Regions from separate parts of the Homo sapiens genome. Here region 1 is linked to region 2. Evidence: fine-mapped QTL for protein levels in blood plasma. Region 2 holds a variant in brackets. A gene starts in the other region. All regions are shown on their forward strands.

The links. PIP is the posterior inclusion probability: the model's chance that the variant is causal. Protein levels are from antibody-based Olink assays in UK Biobank. Linkage for the fine-mapping came from a reference panel and not from the study's own genotypes, which makes the PIPs less certain.
Region 1: it holds the start of LCN2, and the variant in region 2 is fine-mapped to the plasma level of the LCN2 protein (UK Biobank, PIP 0.97).

What each region holds. Positions count from the first base shown.
Region 1 is chr9:128,144,889-128,152,888 of GRCh38, forward strand. It overlaps LCN2 (lipocalin 2), which reads left to right and starts at 4,565. Exons shown (of 7, transcript NM_005564.5): 1 at 4,565-4,775; 2 at 5,350-5,486; 3 at 6,750-6,829; 4 at 7,018-7,137; 5 at 7,295-7,396. The coding sequence starts at 4,638. RefSeq lists an enhancer at 1,286-1,785 and a silencer at 5,915-5,964.
Region 2 is chr1:153,360,494-153,373,359 of GRCh38, forward strand. S100A9 (S100 calcium binding protein A9) reads left to right here. Exons shown (of 3, transcript NM_002965.4): 3 at 151-530. The coding sequence ends at 345. Among named protein-coding and RNA genes, the nearest start is that of S100A12, 8.7 kb to the right of the region's middle. The variant G/A (reference allele first, on the strand shown) is at 4,974.

The sequences.
Region 1 (8,000 bases), not on the chromosome of region 2:
AGGACCTGGAGAGCAGGGAGCACGGGAGCATGTGGGGTAACGCAGGGGTGGCCGCAGTGGAGATGCCCCTTTCCTGGGGTGCTGGGGGCTGCAGTCCGGGCAGGAGGGGTGCAGAGCTGGGAGGAGCATTGGTTTTGAGCAGCACCAGGACCATGTGGGACAGAGGCCTATGACAGAGGGACTGCGGCCCAGCTCCATGGGAGCCTGGCATCCACCACTGCCTGCCGCTGCCTGTGTCCACCCTAGACCCTGCTCAGAGCCTTGACGTCCACTCCGCTGCCACCTATGATCATTGTGGGCCCTCTTGCCCGCATAGGAGTCCAGGCTCTGGAGTAAAAGGCAGAGCACCCATCTAAGCAGCATGCCTGGGCCAGGCACCAAGGGATGGAACCAGCAAGGGCCCTGGGCCTAGACCTCAAGCAGCAGGGCCCGCTTCCCCCTGTCTGGTGGACCCCAGGGGTTCACCAGAGGGAGGAATCCAGTGGGTGTACTTGGGGGAGGGTTGGGAGGGGATTTTCACAGGCGGGCAGGGTCCCTGTCAGGTAGAAGGGGCAGGAGGACCTCAAGGCCCCTTGGCGAGCCTTGGCATGAGAGAGGATGGGGGTTGGAAAACTGTTTCTGGAAACAGGAGACTCAGCCCAAGACCCTGGCAGGGCAAGCTCCTCACACTAAACAGCCCCTCCCGTTCCTGGGTGTTTGAGAGTCGGGTGCCCAGCCCGGACCTGCCGTGACCAAGGAGAGCTGATCTGCAGACACCAAGACTTCCTGCATCTGTGACTGGGCCTCCTGGGGGCATCTTGACTGTAGACTCCTTCCAGGTGTGGTACCTGGCTCCTAGAAGCCTAGCCAGTCACCTCCTGCCCAGCCTTCAAACACGTCAGAGGGTTAACCATTCATGGCCACGCTGAACACTACTCACAAGATCCGGAAACCAGAATGGGGAGTCAGACTGGATTCCTGAGATGTAAGGACCGCCAGGAAGCATCTTGCTGCCTTCATGCATGGATGAGACCTGGGCCTCTCCATGGGAGGACAGGCTGCTGCAGTCTCCAGGGAGCACCCACTCTTGGGCGTGGAGAGTGGGGACAGCTGCCTGCCAGAGACTGCGAGGGGAGGTCGGGAGCAGCCGGAGTACTTCTGGTCTCTGGCCACGGAAAACCCAGGCAGGGACCTGTCTTTAAGCTCCTGCTGTTGCTAAGCCGACCTGCACAGCAGGACTTGGGAGCCCAGCCCAGCTCCTCTCAGGAGGGGCTTGGCCCCATTGCTTCTGTGTGGCTCGTTGAGGGCTCACTAGAGGCACCTGCAGCTCCTTGAGAGAAAGCAGGCCCAGTCCAGGGGCCACGGTGGAAACCATAGGAGGGGCCGAGGGGAGGCAGGTGGGTGCCTGTCATGCCATGCACAGTGCCACACGTGTCGTGGAGATTGTCCCAAGAGCCCCGGGGTCCAGGGACTCCCCCAAGCGCTGAGCAGTGTGAACACTTGTGTACCCTCATTGGCTAGGGCCCAATGAATGGGGCCCAGTGGAAAGGGGGTGGGTGAGGAATGGGGCCCCAGTGTCCTGTTGACCCTGGAGCCCTTGGAGTCGGTCAAGTCTGAATGGGAGGTCTACACCACAGTCCTTACCCAACCTTCCTAGTGCTGAGTCCTGAAGCTTGTGTGGTGGGTCTATGTAGAGCTGACCCCCTCCCTGCAGCCCTGCTAGACTCTGAAGAGAGCCAAGGCCAGTGGGTAGGAGACAGGTCTGGAGCTGGTGCAGAGAGAGGAATGAGCCCTGCATGGGTTTGATCAGAAACTCAGCCTTGTGTAGGGACACCCTGGGGCCCGGTGCTGTCCATGCATGACCTCACAGAAGCGCAGAGCTGCCCTCTCTACAGAGGAGCGCCTGATTTGTGTGGGAGCTAGGCAGAGATCTGCATGCATGCGGAGGAGCCAGGCTTCAAGCCAGCCTGGGGGACCCCCAAGCGGGACTATCTCCCCTTCTGCACCTGGCTCTGGTGTCTTCCCACTGTGGACCCAGTGCCCTGCTCACCCACCACATTCATACCCTGGAGTCCTGGGTCCTCAGAGATCCATGACACTGCCTCACCCCCAACTTCAAATTCTCTGGGGCTCCACCCGCTGGTCTCAGCTACGTGAAGCAGTCACCGTAGACTAGAGGGTACTTTTTAGATTTAGGTCACTCTATCATCCAGGCTGGAGTGCAGTGGCACAATCATAGCTCACTGCAGCCTCGGCTTCCTGGGCCCAAGTGATCCTCCCACCTCAGCCTCCCCGAGGATACGTGGTTTTTTTTTTCTTTTTTCAGACAGGGTCTCACTCTGTCTCCCAGGCTGGAGTGCAGTGGTGCGATCTTGGCTCACTGCAGCCTCCGCCTCCCGGGTTCAAGCCATTCTCCTGCCTCAGCCTCCTGAGTAGTTGGGATCATAGGCATGCATCACCCCACCTGGCTAATTTTTGTATTTTTAGTAGAGACGGGGTTTTGCCATATTGGCCAGGCTAGTCCCTGAGGATACATTTTTTTTTTCCCCGAGATGGAGTCTCCCTCTGTCGCCCAGGCTGGAGTGCAATGGCGCAACCTTGGCTCACTGCAACCTCCGCCTCCCAGGTTCAAGCAATTCTTCTGCCTCAGCTTCCCGAGTAGTTGGGATTACAGGCATGCGCCACCATGCCCAACTAATCTTTGTATTTTTACTAGAGACAGGGTTTCACCATGTTGGTCAGGCTGGTCTTGAACACCTGACCTCAGGTTATCCACCCGCCTCAGTCTCCCAAAGTGCTGGAGTTACAGGCGAGAGCCACTGCGCCCAGCCGAGGATACCTTTTTTTTTTTTTTTTTAAGACAGAATATCGCTCTGTTCCAGGCTAAAGTGCAAAGGCGTGATCTCGGCTCACTGCAACCTCCGCCTCCCAGGTTCAAGCTGTTCTTCTGCCTCAGCCTCCCGAGTAGCTGGGATTACAGGCGCCTGCCACCATGCCCTGCTAATTTTTGTATTTTTAGTAGAGATGGGGTTTCACCGTGTTGGCCAGACTGGTCTCGAACTCCTGACCTCGTGATCCACCCGCCTCAGCCTCCCAAATGCTGGGATTACAGATGTGAGCCACCGCACCCGGCCTGGCAGAGGATACTTTTTAAGGTCAAAGACAGTAGCAGAGGTGGAGTTCCTGGGAACAGGGTCATGAGGGGAAGAGGGGGTTCGGAGGGAGCGAGTAGCCACTGGCTACCTCTAGAAAGGGAAGGCTTTGGTGCAACATCGTTCCCCTGCAGTTTTACTCATCTTTGCTTCCTGCCCTTTCATCATCCAATCGGGCAGGCAGGACAGGGCCTGAGGGGGCAGGGATCCAGTGGGTGCCTCTCTAGACTAACCCCAGCTCAGGACTCCCAGAGCCCCTTCCCTGAGGCCCTGCTGCCCCCAAGCCCAGATTGGGGATCCCAAGCAGCACGTAGGCAGAGCCAGTGAGGTCCCCGTTAGTCCCATTGAAAGCTCTAAAACCAGCGAACCCTCAGTCCAGCCTCAGGTCAGGCATCCAGGACGGCCTCAGCCCTCATGGGTGAGCCATCTCTGCGGACACTGCACAGGGCCTACGATCCATCGCTGCCTCCCGAGGATGCCAGCCAGGCCCCCGTTGAGATAACTGCTTCCCTGCTGGACAAGGCTGGGACCAGCCATCTCGGTGACAGTTCCAGAACCCCTGGCCTGGGCTGCTGGGTTCAATGGAAAAAGGCTGTGACTAGAGTCAGGGGGATGGTCTCAGTGACCTCAAGGATAAGGCCAGATCCTTGCACTGTCAGTGACCCAAAGCAACAGGTGTCCAGAGCAGCAGTGTGGCGCCTTCACGCCCCCACACATCAGCCCAACTCACCCAGGACAGGGACTGTAGCCTCAGCACTCAACCCATGTGCCCTGTGTGGGGTCTCTTCCCACTGCACTCACAGGAGAGGAAGGGTCCCTCAGGGGTCCACTGGGGTCCCCTCCTGCAAATGGGGCAAGGAGAGGGGCAAGGGGCTGTCTCAAGGCCCCTGGAGCACATGCAGGTCCTGGACTGGGGCTCCTGGGAGGGCCATGATTCTGGGCTCCATGAGTTCAGAGCAGACGCCTTGTTTTTCCTTGTCCACTGTCAGCCACCCCACCCTTCCCTGACCCTTAAAAGAACCAGGAAACAGCACATGATCTGTTGGAAGGAGGCATTCATTCTTTCCTTTCTGTGGGTGTGGGGAGGGGACCACAGGGCACATACCCCACCCTGGGATCCAGCTGAGCAGGGGGGTCAGAGATGACAGCTCTTCCGGCTCACAGGCCACCGGCCCACATACAGGGCAATCAGAAGAAAGAAACAGCACAAGGAAGGCACAGAGGGAGTCGTTGTCCCTGCCAGAGGTGCAGCACTCCGGGAATGTCCCTCACTCTCCCCGTCCCTCTGTCTTGCCCAATCCTGACCAGGTGCAGAAATCTTGCCAAGTGTTTCCGCAGGAGTTGCTGGCAATTGCCTCACATTCCTGGCCTTGGCAAAGAATGAATCAACCCACCCTAGATCCCATAAATAGGGCCACCCAGGTGAGCCTCTCACTCGCCACCTCCTCTTCCACCCCTGCCAGGCCCAGCAGCCACCACAGCGCCTGCTTCCTCGGCCCTGAAATCATGCCCCTAGGTCTCCTGTGGCTGGGCCTAGCCCTGTTGGGGGCTCTGCATGCCCAGGCCCAGGACTCCACCTCAGACCTGATCCCAGCCCCACCTCTGAGCAAGGTCCCTCTGCAGCAGAACTTCCAGGACAACCAAGTAAGGGGCCAAGAGGGGCACCTGCAGGCAGGGCCTGGGGAAGAGTGGGAGCAGAGGGGAGGAGAGGTGAAGAGACTCAGGAAGAGCGTTGGGCAGGACTCTAGGAGTCCAGGGTCCAGGTTTCAGCTCACTCTGTGCCACCAGGGTCCCCTGGTGGAAACCATGCCCCTTCCCCCCATCCCCACCCCCTCTCAGCCTGAACAGACTCCCCCAGGTCCACATCCCCTCTCCCATAACCCCCATTGTCCAAAGAAGGTGGGAGCACTTTTAGTCCCCCTGCACAGATGAGGAAACTGAGGCTCAGGAAGGCCCACCAGCCACATGCCTCCTCCAGTGAGGAGGTCACCCTCCTCCCTGCCAGACTCAGAACCGCCTCTTCCCCCAGGACTCCCTTCTGGACTGATGGCCTCCTGCTCCTGCCCCTTCACCAGTGCAGGCCCAGCCTGGGCCCTGCTGCCCAGCTAGAGGGGCTCATGGTTCCAAGCTGGGCGGCCCAGAGGTGCCACAGGGACAGAGCTGGAGGGGTGGCTCCTAGGGCCATTCCTGGGTTGTGCCTCTTATCAGTCCCTTGCAGTTCCAGGGGAAGTGGTATGTGGTAGGCCTGGCAGGGAATGCAATTCTCAGAGAAGACAAAGACCCGCAAAAGATGTATGCCACCATCTATGAGCTGAAAGAAGACAAGAGCTACAATGTCACCTCCGTCCTGTTTAGGTGAGGGCCGACATCTCCTGGGGGTGTGAGAGTCAGACTGACGTCACAGGCAAGGGATGGCCAAAGCTGAGGGATCCTGTCGTTCACCTCGCTGTTCTGCCCGGAATTCATCTGTGTTCATCCTTCCTCTGTTCCTTAGAGCAACGTTTATAGCACATTTCCATGCAGACACACAGACAGTGGTGGGGATGGACATGCACAGTCGTTAGAAAACAAGACGGAGAGAGGAGGGGTGCCTGGGAGCGGGAGGAGGGGACACTGGATCCAGCCTGGAACCCCACCCAGTGCCTTCATGGAAGGCTTCCAGGGAGGTGGCCTTAAAAGAGCCAACCTGCTTCAAAAGGAAATGTGGGGTGTTCCCGGCAGGGGCTGGAGTCAGAGAGAGCCCCCCCTTCAGGAAGGAGCAAGCCATCGCAGGGTCACCCTGAGCAGAGCTGCTGAGCAGCCTGGAGGGGCAGGTGGCCACGCTAGCACCTAGCACGGTCCTCAGGCCCCGCCCCAGCGGATCTGCTGCGGAGTGGCTTAGAGCAGGGCTCTTGGGCCGCAGGGTGGGGAGACTTGGTGGGGTGCAGCCTAGGGGGTCGGGAGACCAGCGAAAGTGAAGCGGGGCCGTCACAGGTGTGAGAGAACAGGCGCAGGGTGAAGAGGCAGGGAGCCAGGGATCAGCCGCCCCCAGTGGGTTTCTGACTCTGGCAGCTGAGTGGATTGGGATTGGGGCATTTGTGGAGCAAGGAGCAGAATACAGACAGGTTGGGGAGCTCAGCCCTGGGGTGCCAGGGGATGGGAAGTGGGAGGACTCAAGGATGGGGTCAGGTTTGACCCGAGAGCTAGGGGAACGGCTGGCATGGAGCAGACTGGAAGTACCGAGGTGGATCCCCGGGAGAGGGTATAGGAAGGGAAGCAGCAAGCTGAGTGCAGGGGAGAAATGCAGGGTTTCTGTGTGTTGGGTGGCGGGGGGGGTGAAAGCCACCCAGGGAGGCAGCCAAAGGAAAGAAGGACATCGGGTGCTGGAGGGTCTGAGTGGGGTCCAGGGGCCCCAGGCAGGCCAGGAGGGACAGCCTGGTGTCAGCTCAGGGAGAAGGCCCAGGCCCATCTCGGCTGGGTGGGGTAGGGCCCCTCCAGGTAGTGGGGGATGAGCTGTCACGGGTTGGGCCGGACTGAGAGCAACAGAACCCTGCTGCTGCCCTGGCCCCACCTTGTCCAGCACAGGAGGCCCAAGCCTGGGTTGTCTCCCCTCTCACCCACCCATCTCTCCCTCCCAAGGAAAAAGAAGTGTGACTACTGGATCAGGACTTTTGTTCCAGGTTGCCAGCCCGGCGAGTTCACGCTGGGCAACATTAAGAGTGAGTCTTGAGTGAGGTGGGGCACTGAGTTGGGGCTCCGGGGAGCTGGGTAGGGGCACAGACCTTCCTGCCCCTCCACACAGATGTGTTGTATGGGGAGAAGCCCACGTTGATGGGCTGGGGAGGGAGGGGACAGCTCCCTCCTCCCATCCAGGGCAGGGCTGACCCCTCACCGTCCACGCCTGCAGGTTACCCTGGATTAACGAGTTACCTCGTCCGAGTGGTGAGCACCAACTACAACCAGCATGCTATGGTGTTCTTCAAGAAAGTTTCTCAAAACAGGGAGTACTTCAAGATCACCCTCTACGGTGGGTCCTCTCCCATCCCCTCGGGGACTGGCTCCTGATCACACTTAGTGGGAGGGGAGGCCGGTCCCCCATGAGGAAGGGATCTGAGGCCTCATCTACTCATTCAACGATATTTATGTGGTGTCTGCCAGCCACTCACTGGCCATCTTGGTCACAGGGAGAACCAAGGAGCTGACTTCGGAACTAAAGGAGAACTTCATCCGCTTCTCCAAATCTCTGGGCCTCCCTGAAAACCACATCGTCTTCCCTGTCCCAATCGGTAATGGCCAGTCTGGATGAGGGGACGGGGACATGGGGACTGTTCAGGCAGGATGCTTCCCTACCAGGGATCAGGGAGAGGAGGGACTCCGTCCTCAGCTTCAGTCACTGGAGCAGTGGATGGTCCAGGAGCTCCTTGGAAGCCACTCTGGGCCCAGGAAGACTGTGCCCCACCCCAGGGTCTATGGGACTCCCAGGGACCCAGGCCGCAAGTGCTCTTTCCTGGCAGTTTAGCCCGGGTCTGCCCAGACAAGGATTTCAGGCCCAGGCCTGAGTATCCATTTCTCAGTCTCACTGGCCTGACACCTCTGGCCACCCTCCCAGGCCCCCTTGTTCTGGGCCATCTCCCCCGACCCTCCCAGGCCTCGTCACCCTGGGTTTTGCTGTCCTGGCTGTCCTCTCTCCCCTGGGGACTTGCTCACCACTGACTTGGGAGCTGTCCTTGACTCCAGGGAGCCTGGCTTGGGCAGGAGGCTCCAGCCAGGCCATTCAGAGAGCCACTGGCCTCCCCCAGGCTGAGAGACTGCCTGGACTGGTAAACAGGCAGGAGACCTGGGTGCCCGAGGAGCCTGGGAGCTGGGCCTCACTCAGGGCAGCCCCTCCCC
Region 2 (12,866 bases):
TGCGCACTCAGCCTATGGTCATTTTTAATTTTTAAATCCAGCCCCAGGGTGAGGCTTCCCTTGTACATTTGCCAGCTGGTCATTTACTGTGCTCCCAGTCCCCACCTCTGGCCACACCCAGCTCTCACAGCCTTCTCTCCCCACCCGCAGAAGGAGAATAAGAATGAAAAGGTCATAGAACACATCATGGAGGACCTGGACACAAATGCAGACAAGCAGCTGAGCTTCGAGGAGTTCATCATGCTGATGGCGAGGCTAACCTGGGCCTCCCACGAGAAGATGCACGAGGGTGACGAGGGCCCTGGCCACCACCATAAGCCAGGCCTCGGGGAGGGCACCCCCTAAGACCACAGTGGCCAAGATCACAGTGGCCACGGCCACGGCCACAGTCATGGTGGCCACGGCCACAGCCACTAATCAGGAGGCCAGGCCACCCTGCCTCTACCCAACCAGGGCCCCGGGGCCTGTTATGTCAAACTGTCTTGGCTGTGGGGCTAGGGGCTGGGGCCAAATAAAGTCTCTTCCTCCAAGTCAGTGCTCTGTGTGCTTCTTCCACCTCTTCTCCAACCCTGCCTTCCCAGGGCTCTGGGCATTAGACAGCCCTGTCCTTATCTGTGACTCAGCCCCCTCATTCAGTATTAACAAAATGAGAAGCAGCAAAACATGGGTCTGTGCTGGGCCCCTTGGGCTCACCTCCCTGACCATGTCCTCACCTCTGACTTCAGGCCCCACTGTTCAGATCCCAGGCTCCCTGCCCCATCTCAGACACCCTGTCCAGCCTGTCCAGCCTGACAAATGGCCCTTGTCACTGTACACTGTAGAAAGCAAAAAGGCATATCTCTACCCCTTGATATGCCTGCTACCTCACCAACCAGCCCCAAGCCTGTCTTCACCCATCACTGTCTACACAGCCCTCTCTCTCTCCTAACAGAATTCTATTCCTCTGAAAGTCTTCCAGAAATGGACCTAGATAGTGCCATGTCTGGGGAGGAATACTGGCACCCAGGCAGTGGAAACAAGGACAGATCCGGTGTGTTTACTCTCACACTTTTTCTGGATCCAAGAGAGCAATTGGATCTCTCTTAACAGACCTGCCACCCTAATCAACGGGAGTGCTCACACAAGTGGGAGTCTGAGAGCTTAGCCCTATGCCCACCCTGGTCTCAACAGAATGGCAGAGTGAAGAAATGAGCTCCAGTCCGGGCTCTGCAGCTAAAAGACTCCGTGACTACCAGGAGGAGTCTGTGCTCTGGGTCCAGAGAGCCTGGGGGTCTGAAGATTCTGATTTTAAGCTTTGAGGGCCAGCTGTCCTTTCTGGTGGGTAGCTGAGAGCTGGGCCCAGCACAAGTATCTGCTTCTCTCTGCAAAGCCTACTACCAGGCCTGGCCCTAGCTGCCTCAGGGCTACTGCTGCAGCTCCCCCTTCAAGCTGCCCCAGATCCAAGTGCTCAGTTCAGGGACTCCTCTGCCATCTTCCTGCCCTTTGGCTATAAAGTCCCTTTCCTAGGTTATAACCAGTGGGGTTTGGCCTTCCAAAAACCAGAGTCCAGATCAAGGTCCTCTGACCCCTGTCCTTTCAGCAGAAAGAAGACTCACAGAATTAGGATCTGGGGAAGCTGGGAAGACTAGCAGTCACCTACTCTCCCTTTTCATAAGTGAAGAAACCGAGGTGTAATATGGAGAAGAGACTAGTCCAAAGTCACACAAATGACAGAGTTGCTCAAAATAATGCAGTACGAAAAGTAGCTTGAATCATATCTGCCCCACTGGCTGCACCTCCCCAGCCCCTTCCCCAGTGCAGAGCAGGAAGATATAGAGCTGCCAGTGTTGGATTTCAGCCCTCCCCTCACAGCCTGGCTATGGTTGTGCCCCCAACCTGCCTGTTGCAGACTCCTGCTTTAAGGGCCTGGGGGCTCCGCTCTGGGTGCAGGGTTTTAAGGGCTCCCACTCGAGGGTATGAGGATGTTTCCAGGAACTGTCTCAGGCTGAGAGCTTAGGCAGCAGAGTCTAGAAGCCCTCCTCAGTCCCTTCTGTGCCTGACTTGGAGACCTGACAGCTGGGGACACTCATTTTCTGACAGCCCTTCTGCTCCCATGCTCACATCCAGGGAGGAGTCACTGTCTTCACTCCCTTCTGAACACAGCTTGGTAATGAGGAGAGAGAAGCATCCTGGGGATTGGAGGGCCTTAGACCAGATGCTTCCAGTAGGGTGGTAAGTGCTCCCCCTAGGCCCTCTGCCCACCACTACTTATCACAATGTGCCTAAATATGTTTATGACTCTGCCTACCCCTCCAGACTGATAACTCCAAGAGAGCAAAGTCCATCTGTTTTTTTTTTCTGATTTATTCTCAGCACCTAGAGTAGTGGCTGCTACATAGAAGGTTCTCAGCAAATATTGCCTGTATAATGGCCTAGGTTTCTCACGTGTTCTATGCTCTCTTCTCAAGGGATGATGTGGAGAAAAAAAAGCAAGAGGAGATCAAAACCTGCAAATGGAAGGCTTCTGCATTAGCATTACAGAATCTCAAACCTGAAGGTAAGGAGCAGCAAGTTGATGGAATCGGAGGGCCCCTCCACCCCCTGTTCAATCAGACCAATTTGATTTGAAGGAAGAGATTTGTCTTGAAAAAAGTGTGAAAACTATGGACTTAATCCAATCTGCCCCACCCACACTCTAGAGTGATTCTTGCCAACATCCCTGCCAAGTGACTGAACCAACCCTGCCTGAATTCCTCCAGGAAAGGAGAGTTTCCCCCTTTGGGAGTGACACTTGGAATGTCCCTCATTATACTGAGCTGAAATCCATCTCCTCATGCCCACCCAGCATTAGTCCTACTTTTCCTCCCCTTTGAGGACACAGAACAAATCTAACCCCTTATCATCCATCCTCCCATCCACATGTTTATTCCTCCACTTCTTCAAAACGCCTTCCCTAAATTACATCCAGGCTTTCTCCAGCCTCTTCACCTTTGCACCAAAAATGCTGTGCTCCATCCTGGTGTCTCTTGTAAGTCCCTTAGGATCCATCAAGCCTTGGAACAAGTGTTACTGCTTCCTCACCATCCACCCTTCTCAAGAAGATAGGGACTTCCTCCTCCAGGCCCACAGAACTCTGACAATTCCACCATTGCACTTCAAATACTGAATGGCAAATACTCATTTGCCAAGACTATGAACCCCTGAAAGCAGGGACTATAGCTGATTTTCCCCCACATTCAAGATCCCAGCATGGACCATCCACTTGTTCATCCACAAAGTGAAGATAGGATGGTTCTAGAGCAGAAATGGGTGCTTTGCTCGAATGTGGGTGTGAGGTAGGAGTGGCTCTCAGGAACTGGGGTTGGGGGTGCCAGCTGTCTGGAGACCTGGGGCTGGCAGAGAGCAGAGCAGCTGAGTGGCAGGATGACCCAGAGACCTCCTCAGGTAACAAGGATTCTTCCATTTACCTTGTCTCTAGTAACTCAGTCTGCATGTAGGCAATTGTTTCAGACCCTGGGGGAAGGTCTGACAACAAGCCACTTGCACCCTGCGGAATTTTCTTTAAACGTAGTTGAACAGAACTCATCAAGGTGACTTAACCTCTTCATTCCCATTAGCCTCTTTCATTTCAAAAAAAAAAAAAAAAAAAAAAACCTCATTCTGCTGAGTAGAGCAGAGTGGGCTTCTTTTCTCAGATAGAGAGAGCAAGCATGTCCATGTCCATGTCAAGGTTAAGATTCCCACTCCAAGTGGAAATCAGTAGCTATCTCTGTGATTAATGAGTCCTTTGGGGAAACATGACCTTTGGGGACTTTCCCAGCACCATGGTGACTAAAGAATCAGAGACAACCTGTCTTCAGATGACTATCCAACAATTCCTGCAACAATGAGTTGCCCTCCAGGCTGGTGTTAGCAGTGGAACCTGAACTGCTAGATGCCTTCCTGGGAGGAATGAGGAAGGATCAGAAGTAGTCTAAGCTGCTAAACTCTTCCCAGACACTTCACAGTGCTCTGAATGTGGTCTGGGGCCTGGGTGGTGGTGGGATGGCTCCAGAACTTGGGGGAGAAATGAATTCACTTGTCCACTCACTTGTATGTCCCTTCATTCACTCAACAGACATTAACTGCAGACTTACTATGTGTCAGGCACAGTATAATGCTGAGGGGCCTTCATGATAAATAAAGCTTGTCCATGTTGTCAAAGAGTTCTCGGGCCTGCAGGGAGACAAGACAGCTCCTCAAATTAATCTGATGTGGAAAATGAGAGGCCAGGGAGGTCCAGCTAAAAGATTTCGGTGGGATGTAGCTCGGTGGGACTTTGAGGTGGGAATGATGCCCTTCACTGGGGCCATCTCCATGGAGGGGTAAGTATCAGTGTGACATCAAGGCTGGTACCTGGAGACATCCCGGGATAAACATGAAGGTGCTTCAGGAGACCATGTATGCAAAGGCCTGGAAATGGGCAGGCGTGGGGTTTGAGGGCGAATGAGGAGCACTGGGGGCGTGGCAGGGAGAGGTAAGAGAGACAGATGAGAACAGGATAGGTACCAGGCCAAGGAACTCACACTCCATTCAGCAGAACAGGGGCAGAGCCCCGAAGGCTTCAGGGAGGGCAATGATATAATCACATTTGCATTTCATAGAAGTTTCTCTATCTGTGTTTTATGGGATGGGTTTGGGGTGGGAATGAGACCCCAGGCACATGGCCTGTGGGGAGTCTGTTGCAAGAGCCCAGGTGAGCACTTAAGAGTCCAAGCGGTGCTTCTCAGAAAAAGTAAAGCTAGAGCCTCAAACTACCCCAAGCTTCACCTCAATTAGGAGAGGTGTGACTGCAACATGATAAATAAGATCATTTCATGCTGTTTGCCAAGACCTTTCCAGGAAGGAAGATCTCAGCTTTCACCAGCCCGGTGAGCCAACCTTACACAACCCTGATGCAGCCCTGCCCTGAAGTAAGCTCCATAATCCAACCCCAATGCACTGCCCCCTCTTCC[G/A]GCAGTTGCTTAAAACATATATTTTAGAAAGCCCCGTGTCATGGATTTTGACACTCCAATTACCAAAGTGACAGCAGGACTGAAACAACTGGTTTCTCAAGTCCTATTGCCCCTTGGGGCTCTGACCTGAAACAGTTTCTCTATCCTAAGACGACAATCAGTCCCTGGATGATTAGATCACCCCTGTCTTCAGAGATCCACTCCCAGACACAGGAGACAGGGAAAGGGAGCCCCTGAGCGACAGCCAGCTGGCCTCCATCCTGAGTGTCCCACGGAATGCAGAGTCCCAACTAAACACAGAGCACCGCTATTGGTGCTGGCTCAAAACAACTACATCTAGGCTTTCCTTTTCTGCATGAGTTCTCCCACTCTTGCCCACGTACCCAAAATTGCTGCATGCAGACTGTACAGTGAGGAAGGGGTTTGTTGCCAAGACCCGAGGTGAAGAGGAAGAGGAGGGTGGCCACCAGCAGGGGCGGCAGGGGCAGCAGGATTCCAGCATGCAGCCCGCACCTTCAGCATCCCCCGCCTTGACTTGGAGTCTGATCCTCCCTCCTCTCCCCTGCCTCTCCCCCAACCTTTTCCCTCTTGATTTGCCCCCTCTCTTTCTCTCTTTACCTTTTCTACATCCTCTCCCTGAGCTTTTTCTCACTTACTGCCTTCTGCCCTCCTGTCCTCTGTGGTAAAATGCAGTTCTATGTGGCTGAGTGCTTTCAGGGAAGCAACTAGGGGTCATATCTAACCTTTGTGAAGTAACTACGGGTCATATCTAACCAGAAATGGCTCCCTCAAAACACAAGATGTCCCAGTTTCGAGTCTACTCCTCATAATGAAAGGAGACAATCACAAGGGAAAATTGTTGAAGGTCTTGGGGAATCAAGTCTGGAAAAGGTAAGCAAGGGAGCCATGACAGCTGCCTTCAAATATCACCAGGGTCCAGGGAGAGGAGCCCACCCCCGGGGGCAAGGCCTCCAAACCCGCTGTGGTGTGGCTCATTTGCTGCCAGGCCCTCCCACTCTCCCAGCACTGCCTCAAGCATCGCCCTCGCATTCTACTCCAGGTGTTCATTCCCTCTGGTAGGAAACAGCTCCATGCAAAGAAGCCAACATTCATCAGCTATTCAGTCTGCAAATACTCATTGAGTGAGAACTAAATGCAGAGCACTGTTATAGGTGCTGGGTCAACAAAACTGCGTCTAGGGGAGAGTCAGACAAGAGGCAAGTCAAGAAATAGATAGCCCAGATCATTTTAGATGGTGATGAGTTGCACAAAGAAAATAAAGGGGACATGCTAACAGGACTGCTTTGTGGGCCGGCAGCCAGGCAAGGAAGCAACACTGGAAATGAGGCCTGGATGACAAGAAGCCATCTCAACGAAGATTTCACCCCAAACACATTGGAGAGCCTTTGGAGGGTTTTAATCAGGCAGGTGATGTGATATGATGTATCTGGAGGAGAATATTCGGCAGCTGTGTGGAGGGTAGCCTGGAGAACCCCAGAGTAGAAGCATGAGGACCAGTTAGGAGGCTGATGAGCCTGGTCTTATGTCAAATAGTGTGCTAGATTCCCTGCCTTCACAGAGCCCTCAGTCCAGTGGGGGCACAATTACCAGATATTTTCTCTATAATACAATGTTGTGGGCAAAAGACAAGCAAAGGCAGATGATAAGCACAAGATGCCCAGAGAGTACAGAAGGCACTTTTTGCCGTCTTATTGGCTGTGGTGTGGGGGAGGGGGTAGAGGGGAGCCGGGGGGCAGGGGTAGAGGGAAGGAGAGAGAAGGAAAGCTTGCTTGGACTAATGCCCAAGCTGAGTTTTCAGAGGGCAAGAATTGCACTTCCATGTGCCCAGTGCTGTGTTAGGCAATAAAAGAAATCAGAGAAACATAGGAAGTAAGGGCTCTTGCCCTCCAGATTTTTAGTTTGCTTTATCTTAAAACTTGAAAGGCTTCTTGTGTTGGCCAAGTCAAAATGATGAGACCTAGCCATTCTCACATCAGGGGCTTCTGATAGTCATTTTGTTGAGCCCAGATCCTTCTCCTGAGCTCCAAGAGCCTGATGCACAGGCTGGCATGGCTTGGCTTGTGGTGTACTGGAAGCCTGCCTGAAATATCCTCCTGAGGGCAAAGTATTGCACATATAGCACCCAAAAGAGTGTTATTGGTGTCCTTTATCACTCAGTAATGCCTTTGCCCAGACAGCTTTGTCAGGCTCATCATTCCAGCAGCAGCCAGTGAGCAGAAGAGGGAGGTCAGCCCCAAATTGGAAGGGGCCTAAAGTCTACTCTTGATGGAAATACATGAGGAAGATATGAACAGGTGAGCTCCCTGGAGGATGTGACGGTTGAGTCAGGCCATGGTGTATAAGCAGGTGTTCTAGAGCCAGAGAAGGGCCCAGGTAGCCTAGTGTCTGCAACAGAGCAGACACAAAAAAATGTTTGTGAATGAAGGGATGAAAAGGCACTTCAGACAAAGAGAACAAGAGGACAGCAGGAGCAAAACCCAAGAAGTTTCAAAGCCGTGGAGAAACTAGAGACTGTTCTAGAGTGGCTGGAGAATAGGGCCTCTGGGGGTGGACAGATGGTGACAGTGAGACAGGGCCTCCAGAAGCAACAGGGCCAATCCCTGGGCTCTGTGGATCTAACAGTGCTTGTGTTCATTTGCTTGTTCCACGACACCAGCCACAGTCACAGGGTCTAGTCTCTGTGTATTCATGAAGGGACTGGAGATCACTTGTGCAAACAGCACACTATATACATGAAAAAACTGAGGCTCAGAGAAGGGAAGCCATTCGCCCAAACTCACAGAGCCAAGCAGTTGAGCTGGGAGTCTAACCAAGCTCATTTGATTCCAAGTCAAGGGCCCTTGTCATTGTCCTTAGGTGCCGCTGACTGATGGATTTTGACCAAGGTTAGCAGCCCTTAAAATTTTTCTAGCCATGATTTAAGTTCAATTTGTGGTTCAGTGGGCTATTTGGAAACAAAATTACAGCTGGTGAATGTTTTCACAATAGCAAATGTGCTGGACTTTTGCTCTCATCGGTTAGTTGTTGGTTTTTTTGTTGTTTTTTTTTTTAACAGATTCTAATACTACTATATATATCAGAAGTGGTCCCAAATCAAGGTAAGTGCATCAAGGGAGTGGCCTAGTTTGCAGAACAGCTTGGTCTAGTTCAAAGGCCTTTAGAGGAAGATATTGCATAACTTCCCTTGGTTCCTTATCTTACACTGGTCAACTTTAACTATCCAAGCCACCCCTAAATATAACCTCAGTCTGCTTTGGTTTAAAATAATCTATACCTATTGTGCTGTGGCAGAGGGTGGGTCAGCTACAATCGTTACCTCCTGTCTAAATTATTATCTTACTGTTATTGCTAATGTTTGTTGAGTGCTTACTCTGCATCAGATACTGTGCCAAGTGCTTTCCATGTGCTATGAGATGACCTAATCTTGGCCAGTCGCATGGCTTACGCTTGTAATCCCAGCACTTTGGGAGGCCGAGGCAGGCAGATCACGAGGTCAGGAGATCGAGACCATCCTGGCTAACGCGGTGAAACCCCGTCTCTACTAAAAATACAAAAAAATTAGCCTGGTGTGGTGGCGGGCACCTGTAAACCCATCTACTCGGGAGGCTGAGACAGGAGAATGGCGTGAATCCGGGAGGCGGAGCTTGCAGTGAGCCAAGATCGCGCCACTGCACTCCAGCCTGGGAGACAGAGCAAGACTCCATCTCAAAAAATAAAAAAATAAAAAAAGGAAAAAAAGGAGATGACCTAATCCTCTCACCAACTCTGGGAGAGGGGTGCTGTGGTTATCCCCATGCTACTGATGGGGAAATTGAGGTTTAAAGATTCTAAGTAACTTGTTCAAGGTCTCACAGTTAGTAAGTGGCAATGCTAGGATTTGAATACAGAAGCATAACTTCTAGCCTCACACTCTCGACTGCTACTCTTTAGCACCAAGGGACATCCTCCTTCCTACCCTCTCACTAAGTGATGTTCTCCTTCTAGACCCTGCACCAAGTTCCCCTCTATCCAACTGAGGTCTCTCAGAGCACTAACACTGGGTGACACCTGAGTATTCACCTAGTCTAAAACTTTCCAAAATAGATGTTTAAAATTCCTTTGAATTCTTCAAAAATAAAGAAAACACAGACCCAGAGAGGCAAAGTGATTTGGCCAAGGTCATGCAGTGAGGGAAGGCTTTCCCCAAATGCTCTCACATTCTCATTCACATTTGGTGATAGAAGCCTTCCAGGCTTGGGCCATTCCAGGACTCCCTTCCCTGGGTCACACATTCCTTCCTTTTCTGCCAATCCCACTTCACCCCCATCTTCAGGCTCTCCCCTCAACCCCATCTACAGGCTTCTACTTTCTCGCACACTTTCCACACAACTGCAATTGTTTCCTTTGATGGGGGTGGTCAGCAAAGCTTCACCCCAAGACCATGTGCCCAGGACTCATCATTTGTCACTTGTCCTGAATCCCAGCTTCCCATACACTGTCTCCACATGGCTTCACAGTAAATAAGCCGAAAGTCAAACCCACTCTCCTGCAGTAAAAAGCCCCCTTTCCCACTTTTCCTCACATCTGTCTTGCCTGACCTCCAGCAGGGTATCTAACCTTTCTAAAATTCTTCAATTTTGCCACCTGGCCTGCCCCTGCTGCTGAAGAAGATCCAGAGGTGGAACAGGAATTAAAAGAAATTAAAGAATGTGTAAGCAGAAACTCAGTTGTATGTAAGAAAACCCAATTCCCCCTGAGAAGGAGAAAGAGCTGGAGTCCTTTAAAAATTAACTGCCTGTTTTTCTGTAGCTAGTGAGCCTTATCTTTCCTCCTTTCCCAGGCATTATGAAGACCTGTTTCTCTAGCTATGCAGCTGCAAGGTCACTAGACAAATAAACTCAAGTCATAAAACGTGTTTTTCCTTGAAAAGTAAGAAATGATGTAACGCATGTCTCAATTAATTGAAATCCAGTGTATTACAGTTCTAGTACATCTCACACATATGACCATGTTTCAAGTCCTCAGTAGTCATGTATAGATCGTGGCAACCATATTGGACCCTGAAGCCCTAGATCATTTCAGAAATGGAATGGGGCTGGACTAGGGTGGTGATAATGGTGGTGACAAGGGGTGGTCAGATTATCAATACATTTTGAAGGTGGAAATGACTTTCCAGTGACTTCTGCTGATTTCATAGTTCAGGGCTCAGTCCTTTGAATGTTAATCCAACTGGACCGGTTCACCTAAATAATTAATAAATATCCTCCTCAACCCCATTGGTCTCTCTTATTTTTTAAAATATCCCGCTACAGAGGGAGCAGCCACGGGAGGGTCTACCAGAGCCCAAGGCTCTGCCCCTGCTGCCTCTTCTGTGTGTATCTTGATGTTCCCACTAAACAGGGACTGGGGCTGACTTCTGATTTCATGCTCCCCATCAGTGCCAGACCTAACTTTAGTGGTTGGTTGGAGGAGTCAGGGGTTGGAGGACAGGGAGGTTTCCAGTGACTTCCGCTGATCAGATTGAATTGCACTTTTCACCAGGGCCCAACAGCTGTCCCTGAGGCCATGCTTCTTCATATTTTCCCTGGGGCCAGTTATAGAGAGTCAAGCCAACAGACTTATCAATTTCCACACATTTATTCATTTAAGAAATGTTTATCAAACATTGTCCTAGTGTCCTCATGCTACTATAACAAAATATAGAATGGATAATTTATAAACAACACAAATTTATTTCCCACAGTTCTGGAGGCTGAGAAGTCCAAGATCAAGGTGCTGGCAGGTTCAGGTGCCTGGTGAGGGCTGCTCTCTGCTTCCAAAATGGCGCCTTGTTGCTGCTTCCTCCAGAGAGGAGGAGCACTGTGTCCTCACATGGTGGAAGGTTTAAAAGGGGAAAACTTGCCTCCTCAAGCCCTTTCATAATGCATCAACCCATTCAAAAGGGTGGAGGCATCATGGCCTAATCACCTCCTAAACCCCAACCTCTTAATACTCACATTGGGGATTAAGTTTCAACATGAATCTCAACAGGAACACAAATATTCAACTCATAGCAAACAACCACCTCTTTCCAGGCACTGTGCTTGTGCTAGTGATTCACAGTGATTCAGCACCTGCTCTTTAACAACCTAGTCCATCAGAGAAGATGAATATTAAACAAATAATCATGGCCATGGATCCAGAATCACAAAAGAAGACAAGAGCACCAAAGGAGAGCAGCATGGTCCTACGGTACTGTTAAACAAAGAACCTGGCCTGGACTAGTGTGGAGAGTCTAGTCAGGGAAGTCTCCCCTGACCCTATGTTGGACAGGGCATAATACTCTTCTCCCTGGTCACTTGCTCCTTGTTCTTCCCAACTCCTTTCCATCCCTTTCCTTCTTTAAGAAAACTAAAGAGAGTGTTTCTCACTATCCCATGCCCACAGACATGCAAATTCTATATCATTTCCCCCCTTTCAAAGTTCTGCCCCAAATTTTATGACCATGTGTCCACTCTTTCAGGTAGCCTAACTGGCCCCAGTGCACCCCCAAAGCTGGGTCACTCTCTATTCTCCCACAACATCGTATACTTACTTCTGCCAAAACATATATGACATGGCATAGGGATTCCTCCCGATTCAGGCCTTCCGCAATCAGAGATGAACATTTAAGCCAAGGACTTCTTCTTTCATCTCTGTATCCCTAGCATCCAGACCAGTGTCTTAGGGGAAAACTTTTGGAGTAATCCTTGATTTTTCAATTTCCACCTTCAAAATGTATTGATAATCTGACCACCCCTTGTCACCACCATTACCACCACCCTAGTCCAGCCTCATTCCATCTCTGAAACGATCTAGGGCTTCGGGGTCCAGTATGGTTGCCATGATCTATACATGACTACTGAGCACTTGAAACATGGTCATATGTGAATCTTTGGATTTCAAAGTCTTAAAATGAAAGAAAAGAATGTAAACTATCTCAACAATAATTTTATATAGCTGAAGTAATAATATTTTAGATCTATTAGGTTAACCAAATGTTATTAAAATTAATTCCCCTTTATTTTTACTTTTTTAAATATGGTTTCTAGTAAAGTTTAAGTTATACATATTATATTTCTCTTAGACAGGATTGCCCTGGGGAATCTCTTCTTAGCTGATCTCTTAGCTTCCATGCTTGCCTGTGCTCTATAATCTGTTCTCCACGAAAGCAGCCAAAGTAATCCTTCAAAGCATAAATAGAATCATTTCGCTCCCCTGGTCAAAACCCCCCAGTGTCTCCTTAGCACATTTAGAATAAAGTCTAAAGTCCTCCCCATGGTCTATAAGCTGCTGTTATCTGCTTCCTGATACCTACAGGCTCATATTCCCCACCACTCCCCATTTCAGTCACTGTACTCCAGGTATACTGGCTTCTGTGCTACTCTTTGAGCAGGTCAGGTATGTGCCCACCAAGAGCCTTGGCTACTCACTGCCAGGAACTCTTGGCCTCTAGATAGCTGCAAGTCACTCTTCTTCATTTCTTTCAGATTTCTGCTCAAATGTATACCCTGACCACCCCATCGAAACCAACATCACCTTCCTTCCCTTTCCACCCCAACTCTACTTCTCTACTTTAGTTTTCTTCATATAACTTATCATTAACTACTATTGTATCAATATGATCACACCATGTCATATCATATTATATTATATCATATATACACATATATATGTATATATCATATATATACATATATATATGTTTAAAGACATATATATATGTGTGTGTATATATATATGTGTTTAAAGACAGGATCTTTCTATGTTGCCCAGGCTGGAATGCAATAGCTATTCACAAGTGTAATCATAGCACACTACGGCCTCAAACTCTTGGACTCAAGCAATCCTCTCGCCCCAGCCTCCTGAGTACTG